Homo sapiens: one gene and its partners. The protein of the gene in region 1 purifies or fractionates together with the protein of each later gene. This does not show direct contact. Each region holds a gene or a part of one and is shown in the gene's direction. Other genes may lie near its edges.

Region 1 (4,045 bases):
ATTATCCTGTCTCAGCCTCCCGAGTAGCTGGGATTACAGGCGTATGACACCATGCTCAGCTAATTTTTGTAGTTTTAGCAGAGACGGGGTTTCACCATATTGGCCAGGCTGGTCTTGAACTCTTGAACTCAGGTAATACACCTGCCTTGGCCTCCCAAAGTGCTGGGATTACAGGCGTGAGCCACTGTGCCTGGCCAGGATTGGATATTTTAAAGGTTGGATCACTTGAAAATGGGGGAACAATGATCTGTGTGAGATCTATTTGGTTTCTATTATTAAACTTCTTGAAACTCAGAGCCAGGTGCAGTAGTGGTGAGTACCTGTAGTTCCAGCTACTCAGGAGGCTCAAGTGGGAGGATCACTTGAGCCCAGGAGTTCAACTCCAGCCTGGGCAACATAACAAGACTCCATTAAAAGAAAAAAAAAAAAAAAACTTTTTGAAACTCAGCTGCTACACATTGACTTTCCTCATTGTATATGTGCACCAGGTAGCTAAGGATACTTCAGGTCTTATATTTGGTTTTTCATAGGCAATCATGCATTCCCAAAAAAAAAGCGTTTTTTTCTAGAACTGGTATCGATAATTGTATCATTCTCATAAAATATTTTATTTATCCCAACTGATTTGCCTGTGATCACCCAGACTCACTTATCCAGAGACACACAAATGGGCAGGCAGGTAGACAAACGCTACACCTGCCTGCCCTTTAGGAGCTAACAATGTGATTACCTCTCCTCTCCACGCGCAACCCCTTCCGCCCTCAACACACACATTCATATCTTCCTTATTCTATTAATGAACATTTCCTCGGTGCTCACACAGCTCGTGCTAGGTTGCTCAGTGGTGTCATTTACAATATACTGAAAAATGAAAATGATATCCTCAGCGGGGCGTAATGTAGGGCTGAAAGGGAAAACACATTCCTGGCCCGGAATTTCTTAAACATTTAGAGCTGGTGAAATGGTTGTGTAGAGGTTGGGGAATTTCCCCAGCCTTCCCCGCTTAACCGAGTCTGATGCTGAGCTGAGCCAGGGCAGCTGAGATGCGCAGGGCTTGGGATTTACCTCTTCAGCCACTGGGAGGCCCTCTGCGTTCCCCTTTCCCCGGTGCCTGGCTGCGATTACTCACTCGCGCAGTGGCACCAGCCTTCCACCAGGGAGCCTCGAACGAGCTCTCCCGCCCTCTCCCCGCCCCCCCACCCCCATCTGCAGCTTGCTGGCTCTCTCTTTCTCCTTCTCTGTCTCACTCTCTCTCTTTCTCTCCCTCTCCTATCGGAGCACAATGAAAGCCTGTGTATCGCCGTGACTCCGGGCGCGAGCCAGTGTCAGCAAAGCGGCTAACAACAGACGAGAAAGAGAAAGGAAAATACAAGCTACTTTTTTTTTCCATCTATAAAGCGGAGCAAATACAGGAGATAGAACCAGATTGCTTATTGCGAGTCCAGACCCTCAGATCCACTGGCCGGGGATGGAATGTACAAAAGTGGACAGAAAAGTGGCTGGACATGACTCGGTGCAATTTGCTGGAAGTTTGTAAGTTTGACCATCGTTTGTAAATTACTCTCGGAAGAGTTTGTCTCTCTTGATACTGTATTAGAATAGAGCCGGGGGTGAGGAATAGAAACGTAAGCGGGAAAGAAAAAAATGTGTTGAAGGATCTCTCTCAGTGGCTAGCGACTTAAGATTGCTTTTCATTTAAGGCTAGGAAACCTTAGAGGGAGTGAGGATTTTACCGGTGATTGGATTAGCTGAAGAAAAAAGCATGGTCCAAAAGTCCAATTACTGACATTGTTAACAGTTGAAAAGCTGTCTCCCTCTTTTGGGAGAAGACAACATCCTACAGTACCCCAAAGAGGAGAAAACACCGGAGCGAAAGGAAAGGGAGGAAAAATTAAAAGCCAAAAGACAGTCTCCCTTGATTTTTGCACATTTTGAACAGTGACTTAAACATCTTCTGAAACAGCACTGTTTTGTTTTGTTTTGGTTTTTTATTTAACCTGAGGAAAAGTCAAGGCTGCTGGTTACATAGACATGGTAGAAATGTGTTTCTCTGCAGAAACATCCCCATAAAGAATTGTCGGAAACAACTAGGTGAGGGGGAGTCCTCTCTATTAATACCTCTCTCAATACCTTTTGCTGTGTGTTTCTGTCTCTTGCTGGACAATCCCTGAATTCTTGATCTAACCCCCAGATCGTGTGTTTACAAAGTACCTAGTGGCTCTTGTCAGCTTGGTGGAGGAAAAAAAATCCACCAACTCTGTCCAACTTCTCCAGAGCTGTCAAATGCAATTAGAGTAAGTTAATCAGGGTTTGTTTCCAACTTATCCTCCCCCCAGTTGGTTTCTATTCTTTCTCCCCACCCTCTTTTTACTAACTCCCCTCCCCCACAACTTCTCCACGGCTCCCCCACAACCTCTGAAGACCTCTATTCATGTGGCCCTGAACACTGAGCTCACATTGTCAAAAACAGACTTGCCTGCAATAGCCAGCAGTAGCCTCTTTCCACCTCACCATCCCAGAGGCAGCAATCATTGTGTCCGGTAAGATGGGGGACACAGCGCCCCCGCAGGCCCCCGCAGGAGGGCTAGGGGGGGCCTCTGGGGCGGGGCTCCTTGGAGGGGGCTCAGTCACCCCGAGAGTGCACAGTGCTATCGTGGAGCGCCTCCGGGCTCGGATCGCTGTCTGCCGCCAACACCACCTGAGCTGTGAAGGACGATATGAACGAGGTAGGGCCGAGAGCTCAGACCGGGAAAGAGAAAGCACCTTGCAGCTCCTGAGCCTTGTACAGCATGGCCAGGGGGCAAGGAAAGCTGGCAAACACACCAAGGCCACCGCCACTGCTGCCACCACTACAGCCCCTCCACCGCCCCCTGCTGCCCCTCCTGCGGCCTCCCAAGCAGCAGCAACAGCAGCCCCACCGCCCCCACCAGACTATCACCATCACCACCAGCAGCACCTGCTGAACAGTAGCAATAATGGTGGCAGTGGTGGGATAAACGGAGAGCAGCAGCCGCCCGCTTCAACCCCAGGGGACCAGAGGAACTCAGCCCTGATTGCGGTAAGCACCTGGCTTTCTCATGGTTCTGGCTGTGGTCCTGTGACCTTTTGTGAGGGTAGAGTTTGCTTTGGCCTAAGGTAGAGTGGATGGCAATGAAAAAGGCCAAGATGTCACCTGACTACCTTAAAGGCCATTGGGTGTGTTCGGGTGGTTTCATGCGCCTACTCATCATGTTCTGTTGGTGCTCACTCCTGGGTTTTCCTTCGCTTATAGGATATTCCTTAACTGATAAGAAGCCTGAGTTTTCCAGAGGCTCTCTGGGGTCCACATCTTATAAAAGAAGAGGCTACCAGCTGGCAAGATCTGAGCCACTGAGGAAGGTTCTATCTCATGGATCCTCCAGCTTTGGCCAGCCAGCTCTGATTAGGCCCCCAAGCCATTTTTCAGCCCCAAAGCATTTATCAGCCCAGCTGGCCTTTATTAAAGCCTTTTTCTCCTTGCCCCATTTCCCCTCTCCCTTTTGAAGTGACCCCCTTCTTCTTCGCTTAAGAGAACATAAATGGTAAGCTGTAACAAATAGCAAATTCCCCGAATGTCCCCTCAGTCAAAAACAAAATTTGGGGAAAATATCCCAAAGAGAGACTAGGGAGGCACTGTTTCTTAAGAGGCCTACTCTCTGATTCCCTCTAGACTCTCTCACTCCTGAGCCACATCTCGATTATTTTCCCAAGCACTCCAGTCCAATCCAGTAATGCTCCCTTAGAGCATTCGTTAAGCAGACAGGCACGAAGCAGCTATTTACACAGATCATCATCCTAGGAAATACCTTGTCTTCAGCCACTCCTGGTGATAGGATATCAAACCCAAAAGTTCTGATTAAGTTTCTGGCTGGAAGTTCTTCCCCAGAGGCACAGACACACACCATCCCAGAGGAGTATCCCTTGGATCATTGATTCTCAGTGCCAGTCCTGGTCAGGTGACTGCCTGCTGTTTGCAGGCTTCCCCCCAAAGCTGCTGGACCAGTGGCCTCTGGTGGAAGGTAGAACC
Region 2 (4,254 bases), on another chromosome or scaffold:
TGGATGGGTGGATGGATAGATGAATGAATGCCTGGATAGACAAAGAGATGATGGATAGATGAATAGATGAATTAAGGGATGTCGGATAGATGGAGGGATTGATAGATGTTGGATGGATGGGTGGTGGATGGATAGATGAGTGAATGCATGGATAGACAAAGAGATGATGGATGGATGAATTAAGGGATGACAGATGGATGGATGGATGAGTAACTGGATGGACAAGTGGATAAATGGATAGATGGTTGAATACCTGAATGGATTGAAGGAGGATGCATGGATGTAAGATAAGGCTAATCATCCTCCACTCTCTTTCTTTGCAAAACCATCCACCCATTTACTCAATAAACATTTATTCAGTTCAAACTTGGCACAAAGCACCATGTGAGGCCCAAGAGATACGTGGGTTAATAAAACAGAGCTCCTGCCCTCCTGAAAACTGCAAAGAAAGGGGCGTGGCTTCCTGAGTTCAAATCCCAACTCTGCCAGCGACTAGTTGTACATCAGTGATGTTTCCCTACTTTCTCTCAATTAAATAGGGATAATGTCAGTACCTATCACATTGGGAGGTCTTGCGGGGATTAAATGAGTTACCAAATGCCAAGTGTTTGGGACAGGGCCTGGCACCCAGCAAAGTCTCTTGTGAGTGCTGGCTGCTATTATCCTAATGGAGAAGATGGCATGAAAACCAGGAAATAGGATGCCCTTTGGGAAGCAATGCAACAGGAACTTACACAAAGAAAGGAAAGGAGGAAGCAATTAGTGGTGTCTCAAAGGAGTATGTCAAGAAAAACTTTTCAGAGGGAAACCTTTGAGCAGGGTCATGAAAACAGGAGTTCTCTAAGAGATTGTGGACTTGCCTGGGACCACCTGGCTATAAGCACAAAACCATCCGGTTCCTTTCTGTCACTTCTGGCTGGGTGAGGGGTCTCTGGCAAAGGGGCAGAAGGTGCGTGAGAGGTTGCGAATGGCCAGGACTGTCCTGGGGCCAGCCGGGGCACCTGGTGGCCAAGCTTAGAAACATGACAGGTCCTCTTGGGAGGGCTGACCGCAGGGAGCGTTGGGTTTCAGGCTGCTGGCGTCGGCTTCTGTGGTGCCCTTTCTGTCGGCTATGAGAGTCCAGACAGTGCCCAACCTCCTCCCCTTCTTTCCACACGCACAACCACCCCACCCCCTGTGGCCTGAGCTGTCCTGCCTCGCCACAATGGCACCTGCCCTAAAATAGCTTCCCATGTGAGGGCTAGAGAAAGGAAAAGATTAGACCCTCCCTGGATGAGAGAGAGAAAGTGAAGGAGGGCAGGGGAGGGGGACAGCGAGCCATTGAGCGATCTTTGTCAAGCATCCCAGAAGGTATAAAAACGCCCTTGGGACCAGGCAGCCTCAAACCCCAGCTGTTGGGGCCAGGACACCCAGTGAGCCCATACTTGCTCTTTTTGTCTTCTTCAGACTGCGCCATGGGGCTCAGCGACGGGGAATGGCAGTTGGTGCTGAACGTCTGGGGGAAGGTGGAGGCTGACATCCCAGGCCATGGGCAGGAAGTCCTCATCAGGTAAAAGGAAGAGATTCCATTGCCCCTGCCACCCACACCCTAAGATCAAGGGTGTTCAGCTGCAAGGTGGAAAGTTTGCACGTGGGGTAGGTCAGTTGGCTGCATTAGTTAAGGGTGTTAGAACGGTCACTTGCTTTTTCTTTGCTTTTAAGTGTCAGGGATTGGACTCAGGAGAGGGAAAGGAGCCATTTCAGGCTGATGTCAGCAGCTGGAGGAAGCATGAGAATCAAACCTAGGATGCTCAGAGTCCACCAGGAAGAATTTTAGAATTATAGACAGTCAGAGTTAACAAGGGTCCTGAGAGATTTTGTACAGCCACCTCTCTTACAGGATGAGGACAAAAAGGGACTGAGAAGGGGAGGACATTTCCAGAGTCACAGCTCATTAAATGCTCTTAAAGTGTCAAGGTTAAGACATGCTCTTCAAGGGGAGACAGATCTGGTTCTAGACTTGGCTCTGCCACTGAGCCACTGGGTGACCTTTGGGAAAGTACTCAACCTCTCGGAGCCTCAATTTCCTCTCCTGTACAGTGAGGGGATATCCTAATATCTATATCCTAGAGGAGATGTGAGAATTAAATAAAATAATGCATGCAAGAGGCCTGGCATGGTTCCTGGCATATACTGAGTCCTAGAAATGTTAGTAGCTATTACTGATGAAGCCCAGGCTAGGGACCTTTCAAAGCATTGCAATTAGAGAACAGAAGATAGAGGCTCATTAGTGACCTTCGATGTTGAGTATGTCTCTAGTTTGAGAGGTCTGAATGATGTGGTCTGCAAGTATATCCTGCCTTCTACCACAAGGGATTCCAGAATACACCAAAGAAAACAAAATTCTGAGGTTTGTAAATAGAGGGTGGCTGTGGTTTGTACATAGAAGCTCATCTCCTCGTTGCCTTCTATCCCAAAGGTGATACACTCTTCTCTTGGCCCCTTCCCTCACCATTCTGAGCTGGTTCCCTCAGAAGTCTAATAGGTTAAGAATCAACGTTTCTGCCAACGGGAGGAAGGAAGTGGGCGCCGGGGTTGCCACAAGTGAATGGATTGTCTTTGGCACTTTAATTTGCAGATTAATTTCTCCTTATTTGTGAGCCAGAGCCAATTTTCCTCTTCCACTCCGTCGTCCTTTGGGTCTCCCTTGGGCTTTACCCATTTCCAGCTTCCGTCTACCTCGGGAGCATGGCTGGTCCTGGAAGCTCCGTTATCTAAAATTTGAGCCGTTGGTGATCCGTGCTAGAAACACTTGAGGAAGAAGAGTTGAGTTTTCTGTTGACTGTAATGGCATCGTAGTGTGTTTATGTCTTTCTTCTCCTGTCCCTGTCATCTGGCTGCAACAGGCCCTGTTGGATTGCACAAAGTGCTCCCCCGACCAACACACACACACAAATTGACATCAACTCCTGGGCCACAGATATGCCATGTGACCTTGGACAAGTCTCTCCACCTCTGGGCCTTATTTCTCTGCTGGTTGAGCGAAGGGATTGTCTTCCATGGTCTCCGAGATCCCGTCCCACGCTCATGCCCTAGAATTCTCTGAGTCCTTGATGCACTTTTGCCTTTGGCGAGGAGGCAGGACAGTCAGGCGTGGAGGTAGGAGACCAGAGTTTGCAGAGCAGAGGTCTTTCCAAGGTGATTTGGGAGCTGCCAGACCTAAGGCAGTGACTTGTACGTCTTGAAAGAGACTCAGGGTGTTGCATCATCAGGGAGGATCACGGAGGTTTGCCGGGGGCCGGGAGCCAGGGATAAGACATAATGCCTAGGGTTGCTGGTCCCTGAAAGGTCCCAGAGGCCTGGTGCCCTGTCACGTCTTAGGTTGTGGGACATGCAGAGACTGTGCCAGCTGGTTCTGCCCTCTCAGTATTTGGGGTACAGGGAGGATGGCCTCCCTGGGGGCAGGGTGGAGGAGGCTCATGCCCAGGACTGCAAATGCCACCCGTGAGAGTTGGCATCTTGACTTTGTTCTAGATACTGACTCTGGATTTTCTAACTGACCTTGAAAGGTTATGTCTCCAATCTTCTGATTGTAAAAGAGGGCAAATTCCATGAAGCCCAGTCTGTAAAACACTGAGGCCTTCACTGCACGTACACAAACATAAAATTCTAGAACACAGAAGCTGGAAGGTCACTTGGAGATTCTGGCTCCAGGAGTGGGGCTTCGGAAGGGAGGGGGCTGCTGAGTGGGCTCCACACCCCTGTTTTTCCTTTCTTTACTCAAACCTTTTTTGTTTTATTTACTTTGGCTGTTTTGGGGAGCGGGGGGAACAAAGGATTTCAAGGTCATAAAATGTTTGAAAATCACCAGTGGTGGTCACTACTTCTCATTACAGGGAGGAACTGGGCCTGAGAGTCTCCACCGGTTAATGGCAGCCACAGGCAGGACCAAAAATTCCTGGGTGATGGTGATGATAATGATAATGATAATGATAATGGTAGAGATGATGAGGAGGAGAAAGACAGCAACCATTTATTCAGCACATACTGATTGCTGGGCTCTGTTTAAGTGTTTCACTCACTGAAGCCTGACAACAATCTTATGAGGTAGATATGATTATGATCACCACATTTAACAGAGAGGTTAAGTAACTTACGCCAAGTCACACAGCAAGTAAGAAAGGAGCTGGAATTCAAATTCAGGCAGCTTGGATCCAGAATCCTTGCTCCTTTTTTTTTTTTTTGAGATGGAGTCTTGCTGGGATTACAGGTGCA
Region 3 (3,699 bases), on another chromosome or scaffold:
TCTCTGGGAAGCTCTGGCCTCTCCCAGCAGCACAATAAGGGGACCCTGAACCCTGGTTTAACAAAGCCACCGGTCCCAAGGGTGTCACCAGCCATGGGAGGCCAGAATTCCTCCTGGCAGCATCAGGGAATGCCGAACCTCAGTGGCCAGACCCCAGGGAACAGCAACGTGAGTCCCTTCACTGCAGCCTCCAGTTTCCACATGCAGCAGCAGGCCCACCTGAAAATGTCTAGCCCGCAATTCTCCCAGGCAGTGCCCAACAGGCCCATGGCTCCCATGAGCTCAGCAGCTGCCGTGGGGTCCTTGCTACCCCCAGTGAGTGCACAGCAGAGGACCAGCGCCCCTGCCCCAGCACCACCCCCAACAGCCCCTCAGCAGGGCTTGCCTGGCCTGAGCCCAGCAGGGCCTGAGCTGGGGGCCTTCAGCCAGAGCCCTGCCTCACAGATGGGCGGTCGGGCGGGGCTGCACTGCACCCAGGCCTACCCTGTGCGGACCGCGGGCCAGGAGCTGCCTTTTGCCTATAGCGGGCAGCCAGGTGGCAGTGGGCTCTCTAGTGTGGCTGGACACACCGATCTGATCGACTCCCTGCTGAAGAACAGGACTTCAGAGGAGTGGATGAGTGATTTGGACGACCTGTTAGGGTCTCAGTAATGGAAGGATTTGTAGTGTTTTTAGTGTTCATTCATCCTATATTTTTATTCTCAGATTCAAAGAAAGAGCAACTACTTTGGACCAAAAGCCCATGGCCTGGGGAGCTGGGCAGGTAGAGCCCAAGCTCCAGGTGAGGCCTGGCCCTGGGCAGGGTCTGTGGCTGCGCCCCTCAGGCCAGCAGTTGAGGTCCATCGGGCTGGCCCCAGCCCATCTGCTGGCATCAGTACCTGGTGTTGGGACAGCAGGATAGGGTTCTAAAGGTGGTTTTCTATCCAAACGACCAAAAAACCAACAGTAACACCAGTGAAACCCCACACTGTCGGGCTTATAAAAATCTGTGCCATCATGGTGATTTTATCCAAGACTGCTCCACTTACCCCAGTGCTGGGGACAAGTTTCTGTTGAAACTTTAGATAGCAGAATTATTTGCAATTTGTAGCATAGAAAAGATTTTTAAATTTTTTTACAAAAGGTTTTTAAACAGATTAGGGTAGGTGATGGTTTAAATCAATTAAGTGGCATTGGAAACCTAGGGTTTCCTTTTGATTAAGAGCCTTTTTTGTTTCTGCTCTTTGTCAGCTTTCAGGGGAGAAGGAGGCCACTGGAAAATTATTTCCCTAAGTGCAGGCTGTTGACTGCGTATGCCAAAAAGGGACAGGAGGCATGGGATAGCAGGTCTGGTGACACAGCTAGGGTCTTCCTAGCAGCTCCTCCTCCTCCCTCCCAAGGCCCCCAGGAATCCCTTCCTCCCATGTCCTGGCAGCAGGACCCCAGGCTACATATGGAAGGTAGAGATGTGGGGGTCCTGTATCCTGGAGTATTATGTCTCCCCACCTTCTGCAGTTTTCTCTGAACATGTATGTTGCCCATGGTGGGAGCGTGGTCACTGTGCAGTTGTGCACAGATGTCTTTCCTTTACCGTTGGCCTTTCTGTCTGCCTCTCCTTCCTCTCTGCAGCCCAAATGGAAAACAATTATTTACTCCATTGGAGGGAAAGGAAGAGTCTTAGAATTCCTAAGGGAACCTTAGCATAAAGGTTTTGGGGAAGGAGGCCGTAGGCCGGCCCGGAGGAAGCAATTCCACTTGGTTTGACAACTTCTGCCACTCCCATGTCAGATGACTTGCACTTCTTAAAGAGATTGCTTTATAACACTAAGACATCCTTTCTAAAGATTCAAGTGGACTTGACTAAGCTGAGGGTCCACGAAATAGAATATGACATGTGAGCTGTTTTTGGAAAACGAAGATGGAGAGAGCACTTCCCCGTAACGAAAGCAAAGTGGTAAGCACAGGGTGAGACCCTTTTACACAGAATGGTGGAGAGAAAAGAGAATGCTGAAAAGTGGCTCAGATGCAGAGTGTTCTGTGGAGAAACTGCAGCCCCACTTCTGTTTCCCTGGAGTCTCCCAATGGATCATTCAGGAGTGTCCTATGTGAGAATTGAGCCAAGGAAAATACTCATGCAACCAGCCTGAGTCGCGGTGAGGGGACGAGAGGTTGTACACACATTGGTAGTTATTTTGCACCAGCAGTGCCTTTCTCACTGGGGGTACTTGGACCCTCAGATCTTCTTTTCTAATAGCCATTTGCCACCCCAAGTGGTATGTCGGCCATTTCTCCTTAAAACACCTTCCCTACCTTTCCCATGTACTCAGTTTAGCTCTCAAAGAAGGGGTGAATCATAAAGCCAGTGAAAATTTCACCCTCTGAGGGAGTTCCCCAATCTGAAGGGGAAGAGGGTGACCTCAGCGGCTTTTCTCCCAAAAATCGGCTGAAGGCTGGTTGTGGATCCTTGTTCCTCTCCTGACCCCATCTGGCTGCTGCCCCGTCTCCCACCCCTGTCCCCGGGGCTCGCTGGCCCTGCACTCCGCCTTAGTCCTGGGGCCGGCGACACAGTGGGGGCTCCTCACTTGCTGCAGTGTCATAGCAATAAAATGTGATTCTTGGGGTCCCCCCAGGGAGCTGCCCATGGCTTTATTTATGAACCTGGTTTTCGGGAGTCAGGGGAGGAGATGACTTTGCTTCTGTGCACAGCCCCGTCTTCCAGGAGCCACAACTCAGAAGAAAAGGGTGCTCAGACTTTTGTTATACACATTTGCTTTGTGTAAATAAATGTTTACAATTTTATATGAAAGATGGAATAAGCGCTAGAGCTTCCAACTGTATATTTTTTACTTTTATAGATTTTAAAACTATGATCCTTTATATGTGTGTTTTGGGGGAGCTATGATAAGTTTTATGGCAAACGGTTGGTATTGTTAACTTTTTATTGTCATCAAAAGTTCATAAAAGTCCTATTAATCCCCATATTCTTCTACTGCCCTTAACTCTGGTATACACCAAAAAGAAATCTTTACTTTCCTTGTTTTATCATTATAAAAATAAAGTATTTTGCTAGTATGGAAACAACCTTTGTATTTGACGTCACCTGGGGTCTGCTGGCAGAAGTTTGGGGATTGGTTTTCTTTTGTAATTTAGCTGCTTGCTTTTCTTGGTTTTTTAATTTTTTCTTTTTAAAGAAATGCTTGTCGAGTCATAGATTTAGCTGCTTTCTTATTGCACATTGTTGGGTGGGAGCTGGTTTGGTTGAAGCCTCAGAGGAGCTTCTGTTATCTGCTGATAGATACTAAATTAGAGCTAGCATCACCCTGAGAAAGCAGGCTGGCCCCAGGACTCACGGGCGTCCATGCAGCTGATGGAGGGGAGCTGGACCGGACGACTGTGCTCTCTTAGCTCTAGCATCACCCTGAGAAAGCAGCCTGTCTCCGGGACTCACGGGCATCCATGCGGCTGATGGAGGGAGCTGGGCCGGACGACTGTGCTTCTCGTGCTTCATGTAGAACCCTTAGGTTTGCCCCTGAAGTCTGTCTGCTCCATGTACTATTTAGTTGCTTTTCAGCATAGAGCTTGGTTTTCCCTTTTTTTAATTGTAAGAATGATGTGCTCTGGCATGTCACACTGTGAAAGGGGACCAGATGATGGAGCCTGGACTGAAAGGGTGAATGGGGCCGCTCACCTCAGAACTCTCCCTGCTTTGCTTTGCTGGGA

The links.
Region 2: the proteins of MAML2 (region 1) and MB purify together in Homo sapiens (affinity purification with mass spectrometry; one large-scale study listed by BioGRID and IntAct). This does not show direct contact.
Region 3: the proteins of MAML2 (region 1) and MAML1 purify together in Homo sapiens (affinity purification with western blotting, with the first as the bait; one study listed by BioGRID). This does not show direct contact.

What each region holds. Positions count from the first base shown.
Region 1 is NC_000011.10:96,340,396-96,344,440, reverse strand, and holds the start of MAML2 (mastermind-like protein 2), read left to right. Parts: upstream 1-1,245; 5' UTR 1,246-2,545; coding exon 2,546-3,058; intron 3,059-4,045. UniProt on the Homo sapiens protein: Acts as a transcriptional coactivator for NOTCH proteins. Has been shown to amplify NOTCH-induced transcription of HES1. Potentiates activation by NOTCH3 and NOTCH4 more efficiently than MAML1 or MAML3.
Region 2 is NC_000022.11:35,614,458-35,618,711, reverse strand, and holds the start of MB (myoglobin), read left to right. Parts: upstream 1-1,382; 5' UTR 1,383-1,454; coding exon 1,455-1,549; intron 1,550-4,254. UniProt on the Homo sapiens protein: Monomeric heme protein which primary function is to store oxygen and facilitate its diffusion within muscle tissues.
Region 3 is NC_000005.10:179,774,227-179,777,925, forward strand, and holds the end of MAML1 (mastermind-like protein 1), read left to right. Parts: coding exon 1-651; 3' UTR 652-3,057; downstream 3,058-3,699. UniProt on the Homo sapiens protein: Acts as a transcriptional coactivator for NOTCH proteins. Has been shown to amplify NOTCH-induced transcription of HES1. Enhances phosphorylation and proteolytic turnover of the NOTCH intracellular domain in the nucleus through interaction with CDK8.